Linked DNA regions of Homo sapiens: regions 1 and 3 are each reported to be linked to region 2. Evidence: microRNA targets listed by miRTarBase, many of them from high-throughput screens and not tested one by one. Region 2 holds a microRNA gene; each other region holds the end of a gene's coding sequence.

Region 1 (7,198 bases), not on the chromosome of region 2:
GGATCAAAGCCCTGGAATCTGGCTCTCATGCAGGATTCCAACATGTTACATTGAAAGAGTGATGGCCGGGCGCGGTGGCTCACGCCTGTAATCCCAACACTTTGGGAGGCCGAGGCGGGTGGATCATGAGGTCAGGAGTTCAAGACCAGCCTGGCCAAGATGGTGAAACCCCGTCTCTACTGAAAATAAAAAAGAGTTAGCCGGGCTTGGTGGTGGGTGCCTGTAATCCCAGCTACTTGGGAGGCTGAGGCAGAGAATTGTTTGAACCCGGGAGGCAAAGGTTGCTGTGAGCTGAGATCGCGCCACTGCACTCCAGCCTGGGTGACAGAGTGAGACTCCATCTCAAAAAAAAAAAAAAAAAGAAAAGAAAAAATGATTTGAGTAGGAGGGGACAGCAGGTGGGAATACTTGCTTTTTTTAAAAAAAGACTTGATAACTGTTTGTGAGAATTGCTGATAAGAGACAATGACCTTGGGCAGTTTCTTAGCAGGGCAGGGGTGTTTTACTCCCCACACACATCAAATGACTGGCAGCTTTGTGTGATCCATATTCTGATTAGCTTTATATTTTAATTCAAAGCTGTTTCTCCTGGCAGGGCTCCGTGCTTTGCTGTTGCTGCCAAAAACTATGGGGATGGTGCCAGTTGGTTGGGGGGTTTTGATGGTAGTTTTTTCCAACACACAGAATATGTTCTTTCCTGTCAGCAGAGGTGCCTTTCAAACTGTGCATTACTGATCCTTTGAACATGCCCTCTGGAGTAGTCACCCCGAGTGTCTCCTCGGCTGTGTCTGGCATATCTGCTATTCTAGCAAGAAGGTGGACAGAACCATAGGGGAGGAGGGGCAGGGCAGAGCCGCCTTGGGGAAGGTCACAGGCTGGGAAGGGCAGGCATTGCTGTGGGGAGAGAAGTAGGGCTGTGCTCCTTCAAGACCCTTCTGCAGCCTCCACAGTCGCCCCAGGGACTCAGTGAGGGCCAGCCATCCATGGCAGCCTCCGTCCGGGACTCACCCGGCACAGAGTGAGCCGACTCTCTGCAGGTCAACTGGCAAATGAATGTATTGTGTGGTTCGTCATTATATACCTTACTCTTCAGAAGTTTCCCCTTCCTTCTTAAAATTGATCCCAGAAATTCTAGGAAACAAGGGTGGGGGATAAACAGCCCAGTGGTCACATAAACTGAGTTGGCAAAGGGGAAGGCTGGAGTGCAAGGATCCTGGCTTTGTTGGACTCATAATTCACTAGGAAAAGGAAAATGCAATTACCCAATTACTATTTATGGAGAGCTGGCTTTCTTTTCTCTCTTTTTTTTTTCTTTCTAAAGACAGGGTCTCACTCTGTCGCCCAGGCTGGAGTGCATTGGTACAATCATAGCTCACTGTAGCCTCGAACTCTTGGGCTCACGTGATCCTGTGGCTTCAGCTTCCTGAGTAGCTGGGACTACAGGCACATGCCAACCACACCTGGCTAATTTTTGTATGTTTTGTAGAGATGTGGGTTCTCACTATGTGGGCCAGGCGGGTCTCAAAATCCTGGGCTCAAATGGTCTTCCTGTGTCAGCTTCCCAAGGAGCAGGGATTTCAGGTATAAGCCACCATGCTGGGCCCATGGAGCGCTTACTCTATGCCAGATATTTAACATATTTCTTTCCTAATCGTCAGAACCCAGGTGACTTTAGTAACGACTGTCTGAGAAATGAAATTGAAGCTCAGACAGGCTTAGTTACTGTTTTTCTTTAACGACTCCACACAGCTAGTTATGGTATACCCAGGACCGCACCCCAAACCTGCTGGGCCTGCTCTCTACTATACTGAGCAGCCTGATTATCAAATAATGTGTTTTTACCACAATTAAAACAGGGTACTTTTATCATTTAAGCTTCCTGACAATTGTCAGTCTGGGGAAGCAGTGGGAAGCCTAAAGATCTTTGCATAGGGAGAGAAGGTAGGATGGGAAGTAGCTAGACATGTAAAAGTGGTACTAAAATCCACCTGGAGGCAGTGAAGTGCAGAATTAACATTGCTGAAAATTTAATCACTGATGGGAAAAGGACAGATGCAAGAGCTCTCCCAAAATACAACAGAAAAGAAGGGAGAGATGAAAACAATGGGGGTGAGAATACCAAATGAAAAGCAAAGAAAAATCCAACATTTATAGCTATTCCCAAGGAAGAGAAAAGCTAAATTCAAACAGATTATTTAAAGATACAGTCGTTGAAAACGTATGTTCTAAAACAAAACAAAACAAACCCTGTGAATTGCAGCCTGAAAGGAAAGCATGTACCACGTTCTGGATAAATATGAAAGCAAAGAGGCCCCATGGAAACATATCCATGCATAGCCCATGCATTTGTGTCTTCTCTCACCAAATAGCAGGAGCCCCAAAATATGTATGTGTGGGCCATAAACATGTTAGAACTCCAGTGCATTAAGAAAACTGCCTTTACAAAAGGTGGCAGTTGCAAAACTTTAAGCCATGAATTTTTCTTTTTTTAATCTAAAAGCAGATTTCATGTCATATTAGCAAAGGATGCTTAATTCCAAAGCATTAGCTCAGATAGGCAATTTTGGGTGGAAATGTCCCGGAGGTATTTTTGGTGACCTGACTGACCATTGCCCATCTACTTTTTTCTTTCTCTGATCCTTTTTTTCCTAACTTGCCCTGTGTTTTCTCCATTTTTAGGGTAAGCTTTGGGCCAGAAAGCACCTTTTTTTTTTTTAGACGGACTTTTGCTCTGTCACCAGGCTGGAGTGCAGTGGTCTCGGCTCACTGCAACCTCCGGCTCACTGCAACCTCCGACTCACTGCAACCTCTGACTCCCAAGCTATCTCCTGCCTCAGCCTCCTGAGTAGCTGGAATTACAAGGCATGTGCCACCAAGCCCAGCTAATTTTTGTATTTTTTTTTTTTTTTTTTTTTTAGTAGAGACGGGGTTTCACCATGTTGGCCAGGATGGTCCCGATCTCCTGACCTCGTGATCCACTTGCCTTGGCCTCCCAAAATGCTGGGATTACAGGCATGAGCCACCGTGCCCAGCCAGAAAACACTTTTTCAGACTGACTAGCACTGCTGGTGACACTCAGGGCCAAGCGACCTTCCTTGTGCATCCTACTGCAGCAGGGTAGGGCAGGAGGCCAGAAGCAGGGTCCTTGCAAGTGACCTGATAGGTCTGTGAGCATCTGGCAATACGGTGGCAGCCAGAAAATCTTACATGACTGTGGGCGGGAGATTCCAGAATTGTGGGAGAGAAGAATCTAGATGGGCAGGAGTATTTGGCCACAGTCCCAGTGAGTCAGGGTCTGCAGACCAGAGCCCCTAGGCTTGAGAACCAGGACAGTAACATGAAAGCAGCATTCCTAGACCCAGAAACCTTGCGCAGGCAGGTCAAGGAGCTGGGCTTGCAGAGGCAACAGGAGGAGGAGACCAGGGTCAGAGTTTGGACATCTTCACCTCAGACCGTAACTCAGGGTAAATGTAGGCAGGACAGAGACCACAGCACTGCTCGGATGACCATTCAGGCCTCCTGAATTCCATTCGGTTGAATTCAGTTTCTGAAATCTGTAAACCATTCTCCTTCCCTAAGAATTTCAAGTGTCATTCGTGCCATCATATCATCCAACACTGGACAGTGTATTCCTCTATCAATCAGCAACCAACAGGATAAACTAGTCCGGAACCCACATCTGCTCCCCTGTGTAATATTGGGTGAATTCAGTTGGGTGACTTCCTGTTTTCTAAATCTTCCTTTAATAGGATGTTGCTTTGTGTAGTTATATCTGGATATGGCCACAATTATTTCCTACAAGATAACTGTAGGCACAGGGGGGTATTGGATTTTTTTTTCCCCCAGCACGTAGTCTTGCTTTGTAGCCAGACTGGAGTACAGTGGTGTGATCTCGGCTCACTGCAACTTTCGCCTCCCAGGTTCAAGCAATTCTCCTGCTTCAGCCTCCAGAGTAGCTGAGATTACAGGTGCATGCCACCGTCCCCGGCTAATTTTTGTATTTTGAGTAGAGACGGGGTTTCACCATGTTGGCCAGGCTGGTCTTGAACTCCTGAACTCATGATCCACCCACTTTGGCCTCCCAAATTGATGGGATTGCAGGCATGAGCAACTGCACCTGGCCAGTACTGGAATCTTACATCTTCCTAATTATTAGTGGTGACAAGTGGGTACTTTCCATTCATTCCAGTGAGAAGCACTAGAACCTTAAAATTTCAGAATTGGATGAAAATAACAAAGATCACCCAGTTGAATCATATTTTTTTTTGTTCAGAAGCAAAAACTGAGGCTCAGAGACAAACTGTCCTGTCCAAGATTATACAGAAAATGGTAGGAAGAGTTGAGAAGTTTCTCAATAATGCCATGACTGTTGAATCATAGGAACAAAAGCCAAGAGATGGATCCTTACAATAGTTTAACAATATAAACCACATGGAACATTTCAAGAAAGAGTTAAACAATGATCTATGTTTAAAAGCTATCTCTACCTGGCATAGTATCTCACATCTATAATCCTAGCACTTTGGGGGTTTGAGGCAGGAGGATCGCTTGAGGCTGAAGTGAGCTGTGATCGCACTACTGCATGCCAGCCAGGGTGTCAGAACAAGACTCTGTCTCTAAAAATAATAATCACCATCATCTTTCTCATTAGAACACACATGCCAACCATCCCCTTCTCTGGCTACATTTTATAGTCAATGAGTGCTGTACGCAACCAACAAGCTTGTAACAACACTGCTGTATCATTCTGCTTTTATTAGAAGGCAATGTAAAAGAGTATTGACCTACACAGTTAGGCCAGAGGTACTAGCCAATCTCCATCCTCCAAGAAAAATGATCTCCAGTGGCTCAGAGCCACCTCAGTCCCTGTCCAGAGGCCGTTCGCCTGACTGGGACTGGACTGAGGTGGGCGGGGGTTCCAGGAGGGCATAAGATTCCTGACGGGACAAATATGTGTGCCAGGGCTAAACAGAACTGGCTGGAATGTTTTTCTTACCTCCCATTTCTACTTCATTATGAAAATGGTGGACTGGGCAGCAGTGAATGGGTCGATCTTGTGTGTCAGGTTATGTAATTACATAAACGACTGTATTAGCTTTCTGGGGCTATAGTAACAAGTCAGCATGAACTCAGCATGAACTAAGCAGCTTAAAACAACAGACATTTATTCTTCCAGTTCTGGAGTCTGGAATTCTGAAGTCAGGGCCATGCTTCCTTCTAAGGCTTGTGGGGAACCTGTCCCATGCCTCTCTGCTGGCTTCTGCTGGTGGCCGGAGATCCTTGGTGTCCCTTCCCTTCCGGCTGCATCACTCCAACTTGCCTCTTGTCCCCTGGTCTTCTTCCCACTGCATTTGTGTCTATTACCAAAACTCTCTCTTCTCCTAAGGATGCCAGTCATTGGATTTGGGGCCCACCCTAATCCAATGTGACCTCATCTTGACTATATCTGCAAAGACCCTATTTCCAAACAAGGTCCCATTCACGGGGATGGGGGTTAAGACTTCACCATATATTTTGGGGGAACACAATTCAACCACAAGTAGCATCCAAACAGCCTGCTTATTCTGTTCTTGTCTAAGCACTTCTGATAAAAAATAAAAAAATACATGTACAGATGCTTTATCCTTTTGGTGCACTATAGAGTATATCCAGGGGAGGCCAGGCCAGCCCCGGCCCCATTCTCCCGAACAAGAAAACAAACTCAGCGATGTTTGCTCACTTTCCTGCAGGTCCATCTGTATTTTCATGCATGTTAAGCCTCTCATTCAATTTACATTCATGACTTCTGTTTTTCTATGTCTCTCATGTCCTGGTTCCAACATGTACAATAAGTGAGGTGTGTTTTAAGCATCATCTCAGCCAGGAAAGGCTTTTGCTACCATTCCAAAGCCAACATGAAACTTCGAAACTTCATGTCAACAGGCCCCTGAAACCTCCTGAGATGATACAGAGGGAGTGCAGGGGTCATATGATAGATATTCGTTTTCAAGTACACCTTAATTTCTAAAAGTTTTCCATTTCTTCATTTGTTTTATTTTATGTACATCATTAAGGTCATACCCTTCATGACAGGTACTTGCTGAAATTGAGACTCTTCTCCCTTTTGAGCAGAGGTCATTTTCTCTTGACATTGAATTCCAGTATTTGTGCAGAAAAGAGGTGTCAATGAGGACTCCATGGATACTTTACTTTCAGTTGATCAGTATTGGCTCTGCTGCAGGGTGATTTTGGCTTCACACATAAATGTTGCAGTGGCATTTGTCCAGGGGAAAGCCCGCTTGGAGGCTGTAGGATGACCCTGATGGAGGCTGTCACTCAAACAGCTCCAGGTAGTCAGGCAGCTGGTCCTGCTGACCACAGGGATAGAGAAGGAGCTCCTTCCCCAGGGAAGTGATGGGTTCCTCCTGTCAATCAGAAGGCACGGGGTCAGATAGTGTAAGTAGTGACCACATGCTCTTCCTACTTCCTCAGAGGACATCACTAGCTGCCTACCCATGATTTACACAAAGCTTTTGTGGTTTATGATCATCTTAAAAGGCATTTTTCTTATCTACATGTGACCAGGTACTCCTTTCCCTTCAGGGCTTGAATTCTAACTTAAGGCCTATGAATTCTCATAGGTCAGGGGTCCCCAACCCCAGGGCCATGGACCAGTACCAGTCTGTGGCCTGTTAGAACTGGGCTGTATAGCAGGAGGTGAGCAGTGGAGTGAAGCTTCATCTGTATTTACATCTGCTCCCTGTCATTCACATTATCGCCTGAGCTCTGCCTCCTGTCAGATCAGTAGCAGCATTAGATTTTCATAGGAACACAAACCTTATTGTGAACTGTGCATGGGAGGGATCTCAGTTGTGCGCTCCTTAGGAAAATCTAATGCCTGATGATCTGTCACAGTCCCCCATCACCTCCAGATGGGACTGTCTAGTTGCAGGAAAACAAGTTCGGGGCTCCCACTGATTCTACACTATGTTGAACTGTATAATTATTTCATTATATATAACAATGTAATAATAAAATGCACAATCAATGTAATGTGCTTAAATCATCCTGAAACCATCCCCCAACACTGAGTCCATGGAGAAATTGTCATCCAGGAAACTGGTGTCACAAAGTTTGGGGATTGCTGTCATATGTGATCCATGTGGGTACAGCTTTTATTTTTTTGTTTTAGCATTTCCCGTATTCTCTGCCCCAGTGG
Region 2 (7,198 bases):
ATTTTGCCCAGCTGTAGGCTAATACAAGTGTTCTGAGAATATTTAAGGTAGGCTAGTCTAAGCTATTATGTTTGCTAAGTTAGGCATATTAAATACATGTTCAACTTACAATAATTTCAACTTACAACGGGTTTATCAGGACATAACTTTATTTTAAGTTGAGGAGCATCTGTACTTATTACTTATTATTTGCAAAAATTAAAAACTGATTTTGTCAAGGTTTGGGTGGAATATGGAGTAAATGCTGCGAAAGGTTTGGGAGACCAATTGAGTAATATGTAGTTGGCAAGACTGTTTGTACCCAAAGCAACTTGCAAATTTGCAATTGCTTGTACTTAGCAAGTAAACTCTGTGTCTTCCATATAGAAATACTTGCATCTATGCACACAGGGCCATGCACAGAATTGTTGATTATGGTCTTGTTTTTAGTATTGAAAATTTGAAGATAACAAAAATGCCCATGAATAAAAGAATAGCAAATGAAATATAGAATGTTTATATTATAGGATAATATAAAGCTAGTAAAAGGAATGAGCTAGATATACACGCAATGGCATAAATATTGCACCAAGACATTTTGATAAGTGAAGAAAAAAGTTTCAAGACAATGTGTACAGAATAAAACCTATTTTGTGATCATGCATGTGTATGCACATGAACTCTTACACACACATGCACACACACGCGTGTGCCAATAAAAATTGAGGTTGGAGTTATTGGTCTCATCTACGTTTTGATTTTTTAAAAGAAGAATGCAATTAAAATGATTAAAGAGAAAAAGAAACCCTAAAGTCTTCAAATTAGAGGATGTAAAATGCTGAGAAATACTCCCTTGTAAAAAATTATTCTCTTTGTTCACAGCCACCAACTGTTTGTTCCTACACATCCATCCTGGGCATGGATCCACAATTCTACTTTTCCTCAGCACCGAGCCACAAATCTGTTCAAGCCAATGACTTCCTTATTGCGCTCACAGACATTAAACCATATCCAAAAAGAAAACTAGTCTAAGATCAGAGCAATTTGAAATTAGAGTCCATCCCAAGTTACCAAAGTGTCCAAAGTCTTCCATCATCTAATAGGTAGAAGGGCTGAAGGCCAAAACAAAAAGAAAAGGGTCAAATATATGTATTTTCAGAACTCATGCTTCTCTGCATGTGACAGTCTGAGCATTTGGCCCTAACTCAATTATTCCAATCAAGATTTTTCTATTTAAAATTTTCAAAATTGTAAATTGCCAGCCTCTTCTGCATCTTCATCAATTAGTCAGCTAGAACTTGCCTGTCAGTTCCCCAAACCAAATTACATGACATTTACTATTTTTTAAAAGAAAACGATTGAAGAGTGATGAAGCAAGATATTGGAATATGAGCATCCAGTGCTGGACTCCTCAAAGAAGCATCAATTTGAAAAATTACCCACTCATGAAAGTACCTTCACAACAGTTAAGGAATCTATGTAAGTGATTGCAGCAACTGGGTGGAGCAATGAAATAAAATAAAATGCATTGAAAAGGGTATGTGGTGTGTGAGACAGTTACACAAATAACCACACCACCCCTCCCCAAAGCCCTCACAGTGTAGCATGGACAGACACATCCTCCACATGGAAGAATGACAGTGGATAAGCATTCACCTTATCTATAGACCCCAGCACCAGGCAAGCACCCATGGACCTAGGCTCTAGGGCCACCCCAATGCCAAGCTAGTTACCACAGCCACAGGCTCCGGGCCCATCTCTGTGGAACAAGGCTTCAGGCCCACCCAGTGTTGAGCCAGCCCAGACAGCATCAGGCTCCCAGCAGGCCCTCATGGACACAGACTGGCACCTGTGAACCCAGGCCCTAGGCCAACCTCAACACAAGGCAAGTTCCTGTGGCCCAAGGCTCTAGGCCAGCATCTGTGGACCCAGACTTCAGGCCAGCCCCTATGACCCAGGTCCAAACCAGACCCCACAGTCTCAGACTCCAGACATACTCTGGTGTCAGACTGGCTCCTGTGGACCCAAAACATAAGCACACCCCCACACAAAGCTGACCCTCCCCAACTCAGGCTCAAGTTCTACCTCCCTGCAAGGTTGAACCCCATGTACCCAGAGCCAGGCTCAACCCTATGAACCAGGACACCAGGCCTACCTGTACAGGCTTGAGCTCAAGGCCTGGCCCTGCAGATCCGTACACAAGGCCAGCTATAGTGAACCTAGGCACCAGGCCCTAAAACAAGGCCAGCCTGCCCAAGAACTCCAGACCCAAGTCCGAACACGGATTCCATCTGCTGACCCAACAAGACCCTCTAGCCAAGCTGACTGGTAAAGTCAGCTTCCCTGCCAAACCCAGTCTGTAAAGACTGAAAGAGGTGCCTACTTTTTCAAATGTGCAGATACCAACACAAAACTACAAGGATCATGAATAATCAAAGAAATATGACACCACCCAAGGAACAGAATAAAGTACCAGTAGCTGACCTTAAAAATAGAGATCTATGAAACGCCTGATAATTTTAAATAATGATCTTTAAAAGTTCAGGGAGGCCAGGCACGATGGCTCACGCCTGTAAACCCAACACTTTGAGAGGTCAATGCAGGAAGATTGCCTCAGCCCAGGAGTCCAAGGCCAGCCTGGGCAACGTGGTGAGACTGTCTCTACAAAATATTTAAAACTTAGGTGGCTCATGCCTGTAATACCAGCAATTTGGGAGGCCGAGGTGGGCAGATCACTTGAGGCCAGGAGTTTGAGACCAGCCTGGCCAACATGGTGAAATGCTGTCTCTACTAAAAACACAAAAATTAGCTGGTCGTGGAGGTGGGCGCCTGTAATCCCAGCTACTCGGGAGGCTGAGGCAGGAAAATTGCTTGAATCTGGGAGGCAGAGGTTGCAGTGAGTTAAGATCACACCACTGCACTCCAGCCTGGGGGACAGAGCAAGCCTCCATCTCAAAAAAATATAAATATATCCAGGCATTGTGGTACATGCCTATAGTCCCAGCTTCTTGTCCCAGCTACTTGGAAGGCTGAGGCAGGAGGATCACTTGAGCTCCAGAGGTTGAGGCTGAAGTGAGCTGTGTTCATGCCACTGCGCTCAAGCCTGGGTAACAGAATGAGACCCTGTCTCAAAAAAACAAAAAACAAAAACAAACAAAAACTACGAAGTACAAGATAGACAAACAACCAAACAAAATCAGGAAAACATTATATGAGCAGAACAACAAGTTCGACAAAGAGAAAAAAAAAAAAAAACATTAAAAAATAACCAAGCAGAAATCCTGGAGCTAAAGAACGCAACGATTCAATGACTGAACTGATATATTCCACAGATGTCTTCCTCAGCAGACTCAAACAAAAAAAGAATCAGTGAGTTCAAAGACAGCTTATTCAAAATTACTCAGTCAAAACAACAAAAGGAAATAAGAATAAAAAATTATGAAGAAAGTATACAGAATTTATGAGACACAATCAGATGGACCAATATACACATTATTTGAGGCCCAACAGAATAGAGACAAGAGGGGCAGAAAATTTCTTTAAGTAAATAATGACAGAAAAATTCTCATATCTGAAGGAAGTGAACATCTAGATCCACGAAGGTAAAGAGCCCCAAATATATTAAACATAAAGACACCTCTTCAAGATACATAATAAGCACATTCTCAAAATTCAAAGACAAAGAGAGAATTTTGAGAGCAGCAAAAGAAAACAGGCTTGTCACATACAAACCAACTTCCACTGGAGTATCAGAGGATTTTGCAGCAGAAGTCCTGCAGGCTAAAAGAGTAGGATGACATATACAAAGTGATAAAATAATAAAACTGCTAATCAGTAGTTCTTTATCTGGCAAAGTTGCCCTTCAGATATGCAGTAGAGATAAAGACTGTCCCAGACAAAGAAAAGCTAGGGGGATTAAACACCCCTAGACCTGCCTTACAAGAAATGCTAAAGAAAGGCCTGCAAGTTGAAAAGAAAGGACACTAACAACAAAAAGAGAGAAAAGTAGAAAACTCCCAAAAAACAAACATAGTCAAATTAAGAATACTCTAATGTGGCCAGGCGCAGTGGCTCACGCCTGTAAACCCAGCACTTTGGGAGGCCAAGGCAGGCAGATCACGAGATCAGGAGTTCGAGACCAGCCTGGCCAACATAGTGAAACCCCATCTCTATTAAAAACACAAAAATTAGCCAGGCATGGTGGTCCACACCTGTAGTCCCCGCTACTCGGGAGGCTGAGGTAGGAGAATCGCTTGAAACCAGGAGGCAGAGGTTGCAGTGAGCCAAGACAGCGCCACTGCACTCCAGCCTGACTCCGTTAAAAAAAAAAAAAAAAACTCTTACGTTATGATGTGGTACATAAATCATGTTTGACTCTAGCACAAAAGTCAAAAGAAAAAGGTATGAAAATAACTATAATAACTTTTTAGTATACACAATATAAATGATATGAAGTGTGGCATCAATAACATAAAATGGGGGGAAGAAAAAGTTGAAGTGTAAGGTTGTTTTAACATGTTCAAAGTTATCAGCTTTAATAGTAATCTTTGTGATTATCATGAGACTCATAAAACATCTTGTAATAGTCTAAGATGTTTTACATGAGTCTCATGGTAATCACAAAGAAAAAAATGTGTAGTAAATACACAAAAGATAAAAAAAGAAATCAATGCATACCATTACAGAAATAAATCACAAAGGTACACAGAAATAGAGGAAGAAAGACATAGAGGAATGACAAAATGTCAGAAAGCAATTAACAAAATGGCAATAATAAACACTTAACCTATTAATAAGTTATTTAAATATAAATGAATTAAATTTACCAATAAAAAAACAGAGTGACTAAATCGATTTTAAAATTAGAATCCAACTATATGCTAAGTAAGAAGACTCACTTTACTTTTAAGAACACAGAGAGGATGAAAGTGAAGAAATGGAAAAAGATATTCCATGCAAATAGTAACTAAAAGAGAGCTTAGTTGGCTACATTTATTTTACTTACATCAGAAAAAAACCAGACTTTAAGTCAAAAACTGTCACAATAGACAAAGAAAGTCATTATATCATGATAAAGGGGTAAATTCATCAACAAGATGTAACAAATGTAAATACATCTATGTATGCAATATTGGAGCACCTAAATATAATATATAAGGTATTTATTAACAGAACTGAAGGGAGAAATAGACAGCAATAAAATAACAGTCCACTTCAATACCCGATGTTCAACAATGGACAGATTATCCAAAGAGAAAATGAGTAAGAAAACAAGTGGCTTGAACAACACTATAGACCAAATGGACCTAACAGACATATACAGAACATTCTATTCAACAGCATCAGAACATGTAGTCTTTTTAAGCGTATAAAGAAAATATTCCATGACAGAGAATATGTAAGGCCAAAAAACAAGTCTAACAAATTTGAGATGATTGAAAATATATCATATATATATTTCACTTCAATTTATTTATTGTGCTAATAATTTTTAATTTTTAAAATAAATTATTGTGGGTACATAGTAGGTATATATATTTGTGAGGTACACAAGATGTTCTGATATAGGCATGCAATGCGTACCAATCACATCATGGAGAATAAGGAATCCATCCCCTCAAGCACTTATCCTTTGTTTTACAATCCAATTGCACCTTTTTGTTATTTTTAAATGTATAATTAAGTTATTATTGAGTATAGTAACCCTGTTGTACTGTCAAATGTAGATCTTATGTTCTTTCTATGTTTTTGTACCCATTCTTTCTATGTTTTTGTACCCATTAACCATCCCCACATTCCCTTCCTGGTCCTCTGCTACTACCCTTCCCAGCTTCTGGCAACCATCCTTCTACTCTCTATGTCCATGAGTTCAATTGTTTTGATTTTTAGACCCCACAAATAAATTAGAACATGTGATGTTTGTCTCTCTGTGCCTGGCTCATTTCACTTAACATAAAGATCTCCAGTTCCATCCATTTTGATCTTTTTAATGACTAAATAATACTCCATTGTGTACAGGTACAACATTTTCTTTATCCATTAATCTGTTGATGGACGCTTAAGTTGCTTCCAAATCTTGGCTATTGGGAACAGTGTTTCAACAAACATGGGAGTGCAGATACTTATTTCCTTTCTTTGGGTATATGCTCCACAGTGGGATTGTTGGATCCTCCAAAATGTTCTCTATAGTAGTTGTACTATTTTACATTCTCACCAACAGAGTGGGAGTCTTCCCTTTTCTCCACATCCTCGCCAGCATTTGTTAGTGGCTGACTTTTGGATATAAGCCATTTTAATTGAGGTGAGATGATATCATATGGGAGTTTCAATGTGCATTTCTCTGATAATCAATGATGTTGAGCACATTTTCATATGCCTGTTTGCATTTGTATGTCTCCTTTTGAGAAATGTCTATTAAAATTTTCTTGCACATTTTTGATCAAATTAATATCCTTTTTTTCTACAGAATTTGAGTTTCTTATATATTCTGGTTACCAACACCTTGTCAGATAGGTAGTTTGCAAATATTTTCTCCTATTCCATGGGTTGTGTCATCATTTTGTTGTTTCCTTAGCTGTGAAGAGGCTTTTAACTTAATATAATCCCATTTGTCCATTTTTGCTTTGGTTGCCTATGCTTGTGGGGTATTGCTTAAGGAGTTATTTTTCCCCAGACCAGTGCTCTGGAGAGTTTCCCCCAAGTTTTCTTGTAGCAGTTTCATAGTGTGGGGTCTTAGATTTAAGTCTTTAATCCATTTTGATTTGGTTTTTGTATATGGCAAGAAATGGGAGTCTAGTTTCGTTCTTCTGCATATGGATATCCAGTTTTCCCAGCACCATTTATTGAAAAGACTGTCTTTTCCCCAGTATAAGTTCTTGGCACCTCTGTCAAAAATGAGTTCACTGGAGGTGTGTGGATTTGTTTCTGGGTTCTCTGTTCTGTTCCATTAATGTATGTGTCTGTTTTTATGCCAGTACCATAGTGTTTTGGTTACTATAGCTCTGCAGTATAATTTGAAGCCAGGTAATATGATTCCTTTAGTTTTGTTCATTTTGCTTAGAATAGCTTTGGTTATTCTGGGACTTTTGTGGTTCCATATAAATATTAGGATTTTTTTTTCTATTTCTGTAAATAACGTCATTGGTATTTGGACAGGAATTGCATTGAATGCATATACGCAACTTTTAAAAACATTGATTCTACCAATACGAGAACATAA
Region 3 (7,198 bases), not on the chromosome of region 2:
TCTTACACTTTCAGAAATCTTTTTATAAATATATATATACATACCTACAAAATGAGATATATGCAAGTTTATACAGTACTGTATTGCTTGTAAAAGCAAAGGATCAGAAACAACATAGATAGCATGCAGCTCTAAAAAGAGAATGCATTGATGTGGAAAGATCTAAGGTGCAGAACACTGTGCATTCAATGCTGCCATAGGCAAAAATTGAGGGAGTGCAGAAGAATGTATGTGGGTATGCTTGTATGTGCATAAACTATGTCTGGAAGGATATATGTGAAACCAGGGTCACTGGCTGCCTGTGAGAAGGGTGACTTGGGGGACAGAAGTGGGAGAGAAACTTTTCACTGCAAGCCTTCTATATTTTTAAATTTTGGTCCATGTGAATACATTGCCTACTCAAAAAATGATTTTAAAAAATTTAAAACTCTGAAGCAAGGCGAGCGTCCATCATTTCCAAGGCTGATATCAGTAGGAATTGGAACAGAGGTCTGTTAGCCACCCAACGGCAGTGCCTCTCAGCCTGTCAGCGGTGTGCATAGATGACAGTGCCAGGCATCAGGACCTCTGCTGCAGCTGCACTACCTCCTTCCGTGTGCCTCTGGATCTGAGTTCCCAGCACCTGCACGAGGAGGTCCCTTCCTGTTCAGATATGCTATGAGTCCCTGGTCCTCAGGAGTACTGCCTCCAAGCAAACGGCCAGGGACAAGAGCTTCCTGGAATAGGGAACATCGGGATCCTGGACTGTCCCCACCCAAAGCCCCCAAATCCTGACTACTGCTTCCCCAACAAAAACCTGCTTGTACCACCCCAACAGCCTGTCAGCAATTACCCCCAATTACAAACCCAGAGCCCAGCAAGACCTCAATTAGTCTAGAAAGGGGCCTGAGGAGGGGCCACCTGCAAAGCATAGAAAACCCACATATGGCCTCTACCCACAGAGTAGCAACACTCCTCTCAGTCAAGCTTAGGGGCTTGGAGACTTGGAAATTTGGTAACCTATGGCCCCGAGGAGGAGGCTGCTGGTTCTCCCTCCTGCAGTGCCCACTCCATGCAGGGCCTAGTCAAGCACTGTGCCTAGAGGGGCAGTTCCCCAGACTTCCTGCTCTCTCCCTGCTCAGACCACACTCATCCTCCCCACTCACCACCTTCCAAGGCAAACTGCAACATCTGTCGACAAACCTTGCAGAGGGATGCCCTAGGCATCAGCCTCTGAAGCCCACCATGGGCTTGGCTCAGCATGCTGGGAGGAGGACCAAATTCCCATCTCTTTCCAGGGAAGGAAAGCCTCTGAATTATCCTCTGTAGCATCCAGAAACAGGCTGGTCCCTAGTCCAATCTTAGTCCAATCTTCTGCAAATTCCGAGAGGGATCCCATTAGGTTGCTGAGCCCGGGACTTGGCAAGCTCTGAAGTCTTCACTAAATTGGCCCCCATCCTCTTCTTCTTCACAGTGAGTGTGCGTGGCTGTGGGAGAGAAACTGTGTGCATATGGGTGTGTACACAGATCTCAAATCTAGGTGTGAGAAGGTATGCAGAGAGGACTACAGGTTGATAGGAAATGAGTCTCTTACCCGGCAGCTAGATTTGCTCAGATGGAAGGGAGAACTTCCTGACCTCACGGGAACAAACAGAGGTACATGTACGGAAGTGAAATTCAGAGCCCACAGTCAAGTGGTCACTTATCAGCCAGGGGCCTTTGGCAAGTTACTCACCCTCTCTGAGCCTCAGGTTCCTCAAGTGTAAAATGGGAATAGTACCAATCCCTTAGGTTTCTCATAAAAATGAAATGAGATAATGCATGTAATGTTCCTGGCACAAAATAACTGCTTAATAAAGGATGGCTATTTTTTTGGCCAGGTGTGGTAGCTCATGCCTGTAATCCCAGTATTTTGGGAGGCTGAGATGGGAGGACTGTCTGAACCCAGGAGTTCGAGACCAGCCTGGGCAACACAGCGAAACCCTATCTCTACAAAAAATACATAAATTAGTTGGGTACGGCAGTGAGCACCTGTAGTCCCAGCTATTCAGGAGGCGGAGCCCAGGAGGTCAAGGCTGCAGTGAGCCACGATCACGCCACTGCACTCCAGCCTGGGTGACAGAGTGAGACCTTGTGCAACAAAAACCAAAAAACAAAAAAGCTGTTTTTTCCATTTATAACAACAGTAATAACAAGTGCAGCTAAATAGTGGTTTTTAGAGAATGCTATCTATAAGGGAAAGGCCCTGTTAAAGTATGTCTGTCTATCTGTATATCACTGTATTTGGTTTTATCACTTTGGAAACTGTTTGACTGAATCTATTGAAACTAAATATATGCCTACTCCTACAGTTCACTCAAGAGTAGTAAAATACCCTTCACAAAAAGACATGTACAACAATGTGCACAGCAGCTTTATTTATGATATCCAAAAACTGGAAACAAATGTCCCTCAACATATGGATGGATAAGCAAATACTAGAATATTACACAGCAATAAAAAGAAATAAATGTCTGACACATGCAACAAGACCAGTGAATATTAAAAATATGTTGCACAGAAAAAACTAGACATAAAGGCATACATGCTATATGCTCCATTTATACGAGGCTCAAGGCAGGCAAAGGTTATTTATGGTGATAGAAATCCAAATATGGTTTCCCTTTTGAGGCAATATTGATTGGAAAAAGATATGAAGGAACCTTCTGAAGTGCCAGAAATGCTCCATATCTTGATCCAGGTGGTGGTTACATACTGCATTACATGTCAGAATACATCAAGCTGTATATTGTTTACCATCTGTAAGTTATACTGCATACAAAAATATGGAACAAGGCTAAATGCCCATCAACCAATGAGTGGATAAAGAAAATGTGATATATATACACCATGGAATACTACTCAGCCATAAAAAGGAACAAAATAATGGCATTCACAGCAACCTGGATGGAGCTGGAGACCATTATACTAAGTGAAGTAACTCAAGTATGGAAAACCAAATATCCTGTGTTTTCATTTATAAGTGGGAGCTAAGCTATGAAGATGCAAAGGCATAAGAATGACATAATGGACCAGGCGCAGTGGCGCACGCCTGTAATCCCAACACTTTGGGAGGCCAAAATAGGCAGATCACTTGAGGTTAGGAGTTCAAGACTAGCCTGGCCAACATGGTGAAACCCCATCTCTACAAAAAATACAAAAATTAGCTGGGCATGGTGGTGCATGCCTGTAGTCCCAGCTACACAGGAGGTTCAGGCAGGAGAATCACTTGAACTCAGGAGGCTGCAGTAAGCCAAGTTCATGCCACTGCACTCCAGCCTGGGCAACAGAGTGAGACTCTGTCTCAAAAAGAAGAAAAAAAGAATTATATAATGGGGACTCGGGGGGGGAAGCGTAGGAGGGGGATGAGGGATAAAAGATTACACACTGGGTACCGTGTACAATGCTCGGGTGACAAGTGCACCAAAATCTCAGAAATTACCATTAAAGAACTTATCCATGTAAGCAAAAACCACCTGTTCCCCCAAAACTGTTTAAATAAAAAATAAAAAACTGACTGGGCATGGTGGCTCACACCTGTAATCCCAACACTTTGGGAAGTTGAAGCAGGCAAATCACCCTGAGCTCAGGAGCTCAAGACCAGTTGGGCCCACATGGTAAAACCCTGTCTCTACCAAAAATACCAAAAAAAAAAAAAAAAAATTAGCTGAGTGTGTTGGCTCACACCCATAGTCCCAGCTACTTGGGAGGCTGAGGCTGAGATGGGAGGATCACTTGAGCCTGGGAGGTGGAGACTGCGGTAAGCCAAGATTGCACCACTGCACTCCAGCTTGGGCAACAGAGTGAGACCCTGTCTCAAAAAAAAAAAAAGTGTTTCATAAAGTTATAGTGCACACATACACACACACATACACACACACACACACACACACCCTATCTTGGCATGAGGAAAATCTCCAAAGGTAGAACAGTAATACAAAACTCAGCCCTTCTCCCTCCCTTCCTCTGGACTTTGTGCCAGCTAGGCATCTAAAACTGCCTTCCTCCATGGCAGTTGCCTATCATCTTTAGAAAGTGCCCGCTTTGTGGGAGAAAATTGAGCCAGGAATGAGGACCAAGGGGGAAGGGCTCTCTCTGGCATCCCCTCATGGGTTAGCGTGCGGGTGGAGACTGCAGGCCTTACCTTGCAAGCCAGCTGCCCTGAATGCAGAGACTTCTCTGTTTCCAGTAAAGTCTAGTTTGAATGTTTCAGACAGGTCCTCACCATGACTGGGAACTAGGGAGGTGTCCTTGCCCTTGCCTAAGGTTCAGCACCATGGCCATGCAGCTATAATAACCCCAAATGGCAAAGAACTCTCAGATCCTGAGCTGGCTGTCAATGATCAAACCGCTTTTCCTCAGCTACAGTCCCTTTCTTGGAAATTCTAACTTCATTATAACTTCATTATAAGGAAAGTGGCATTTCCCAATTCTGTCCAGCAGAACCATTTTCTAATTCTATTAAAAGGCATTAAGCCCATCCTGGTGGGGAGCACTGAGTGAGAAGTGGAGGGCAGAGTCTCTGCCCATCAGCGCTTACAGTCTGGGTGTGGAGAAAGGCAACAAGGCAACTTTTAAGAACACATCATGTTCCCCAGCAAGCCTGAGGCCTACTGGCAAGGCACTCACTGTTCAGAGCTGAACAAAATGGCTTTGGGCCATAGATGTCATGAGGGATATCAGAGGAAACTTGTCAGCAGCTCCCACCACCCTAGAATCCGCCTCTGAGAGCATCCCACGGGTCTTTGGAGGGAAGAGGGCCTCACTTGGCCCAGGACCCAGACCCTTCTGCCTTTTTCCCAGTTGGCCTCCACCATGAAAAAGGCCGACAACTGCCCTGCATTCTGCCTGATTGACGATGGGGCACATACTCCTTGGGACAAAATGGTGTTGGAGGACTCATACCCCAACATCAGCAAGGTAAAGAGGAGCCCAGAGCTCTGGTCTACTGCCTCTCAAGCCCTTCCTGGGGGAGAAAGAGGGGAGCTCAGTGAGACACTTAACAACAGGAAACAGCTCTCATGTGTGAGTTCTTCCCAGAGTAGGAGGTCGCTTCTCTTTCCTCTTCCTCAATATCTCTCTCTCTCTCTCCACTCCCCTATTCTCTCCCAAGCACATATGTGAGTAACTGACTTTGCTAATCCCAACCAGGCAGACTAATACCCACTGGCTTCAGACCTGGTGCTATGTGGGTGTCTGCTGCTGCACCTTGTTGGTCTGAGCAGCAAACTCAGCAGAGTTTCGAGACAGAGATAAAGCCTGTGTGAGTGGCCTGTGCATGTTAAAGTGTATCTGGAACGTGCTCAGTACCTGAGCTTCTCTGTGGTCTGTGCGGCAGTCCCATCATGAAAACACCCAGGTGGCAGCCCAGTCACCCGAATCACAGGCCAAGGACATCAGAGAATCAACAGGCTTCTCGGAGTCAGGCTTGTAAACCTGGAGCCCATTGGTCCTTCTGCACCGTGAGATGCGAAAGTGAGCAGCGTGTGAAAAGCCTTAGGGTCTGCACATTGGCTTGACATGTTTTCCACCAACATGTGCAAAATCTGAATTAGTACGTGTAGCTGGTGAGTGTGAGAGAAGTAGGAGGGGAGGGAGAACTAGAGGGGATTTGGAGTTGACAGAGGGAGAAGGAGAGAGAAGTGGATGGAGTAACGTGACCTGAGTGGAGGGACACCGAGTCCCTGAGGTGTGGGTGCAAAGGGCCCTGTGAGGGGCCGGGAGGGAGTGAGTGCTGACAGTTGTTGAGGCGTGGAGTGTATGGGGATGTACTAATAGACACAGTGAAGCTTCCCTTTGCTAGCCAAGCACCGCAGAGGCCATCCCTCCAAGCAGAGGGTTGCAGCAAGCTCTATTCTCTCCCGCTCAGGAGCGGGAAGCCGCCGGGTGTTTCGGGGTCCCGCTAGGAAAGGGGACAGCGGAACCTGGTTCAGGCAGCCGGCGGCGGCGCGGGACGAGCTGAGTGGTTCTAGCGAAGCGCTGCCTGCCTCAGAGCAGCCGCGACGCTTCCCTAGTAGAGCTGGGCCGCCGGAAGCCCGAGGCGCGGGCGGCTTCTGCCGCTGTTGCAGGATTCCCGGCCCTGGGGAGAAAAGCGTCTGTATCAGAGCCGTGTAGATTGCTCGCGCCGGCTGTCGGGACCTCCGAGGCGCGGGGCCAGGCTGCGAGGAGGCGCGGGAGCTGAGACTGCGCTCAATCGGCGGTTCACTGGAACCGTATCCGCAGGCGGCGCTACGGTGGGACCACGGTCAGGAGGCGCCGGTGGCTGCTGAATTGCAGCTGCGGGACCCTGGAAAACTGGGGCAAAGAGGCAGTGAGTTCTGCCCAGCCCACCACCCTGGCCTTTGGAGGTGAGCGCCGCCCCAAGGTCACTAAGCCGGGGGCCCTGCGTCGCCCCAATGCCGCGGGGAGAAAAGGAACCGGCCCTGGCGTCCACAAAACCTAGGCACAGTATGCCCTGTTCAGAGAGGATCCCGACCTCGCCAGCAACCAGCCTACCTCCGAAGGTTGAGAAGTAAATCAGGGCGCCCCGCACCGTTTCCTGGAGCGCCCGGTTCACCCACCTCTGGCTGGGCCGGCAAGGAGAGGATTCTGTTCTCTCCCTAGATTCCTCTATCTCCAGCCCGAAGCCCCTGGCTTTTCCGCAGAAGCCTGGAGGGGACCTGAAAGTAATCATTCTGCCAGCTTTCCCGCCCGCATTTTCTTGCCTGTTTTCTGAGCCTTCGAATGCCGGACAGCCATGTGAAGGCACATCTTGGGGAGACCGATTCCAGCCCTTCCCAGGGTGCACGCATCAGGCATCCTCTTCTTCACCAGGGCTGGGGATTCTGTTCCTCTACGGGACAGTCAGAAATCAGTATTTTCAGAGCAGAACTCCTTTCTATTCTGAAAATCCTTCAGAGGAACTCCTTCATTTGCCCCCAACCCCTACACACACACACACACACACACACACGCACATGCATACACACACAGGCTCTTTAAAGGCTGAAAAGGGAGCCGAGTGTGGAATTCAGGGAAGTGATGACACACACAACAATGCTGTTACACCTGGCTGCTGCAGGGCTGAGCAGCGGAAATGCCTGTGAGAAGAAGAAAGAAAGACAGAGAGACGCAGAGAGCCAGCCTGGGTGGTCAAGAAAAAAAAAAAGGAGAGAAAAGGAGAGAGGAGCCCCCACCAGGA

The links. The annotated mature microRNA hsa-miR-3672 reads AUGAGACUCAUGUAAAACAUCUU and lies in region 2 at 4,569-4,591, opposite strand. An mRNA with a match to its seed (bases 2 to 7 or 8) in the 3' UTR can be bound and repressed. Matches are read on the target gene's strand: a 7mer-m8 pairs with bases 2 to 8, a 7mer-A1 pairs with bases 2 to 7 and ends in A, and an 8mer does both.
Region 1: the mRNA of SH2D4A is a reported target of hsa-miR-3672. Seed matches in the 3' UTR shown: 8mer at 6,086-6,093.
Region 3: miRTarBase lists FOXL2NB as a target of hsa-miR-3672. Seed matches in the 3' UTR shown: 7mer-m8 at 3,311-3,317.

Annotation. Positions count from the first base shown.
Region 1 is chr8:19,393,756-19,400,953 of GRCh38, reverse strand. SH2D4A (SH2 domain containing 4A) reads right to left here. Exons shown (of 10, transcript NM_022071.4): 10 at 4,736-6,404. The coding sequence ends at 6,312. Among named protein-coding and RNA genes, the nearest start is that of SH2D4A, 84 kb to the right of the region's middle.
Region 2 is chrX:121,368,379-121,375,576 of GRCh38, reverse strand. MIR3672 (microRNA 3672) reads right to left here and starts at 4,605; the gene lies at 4,524-4,605.
Region 3 is chr3:138,949,164-138,956,361 of GRCh38, reverse strand. It overlaps FOXL2NB (FOXL2 neighbor), which reads right to left. Exons shown (of 3, transcript NM_001040061.3): 2 at 6,723-6,842; 3 at 2,372-6,097. The coding sequence ends at 5,790. Among named protein-coding and RNA genes, the nearest start is that of FOXL2NB, 5.5 kb to the right of the region's middle.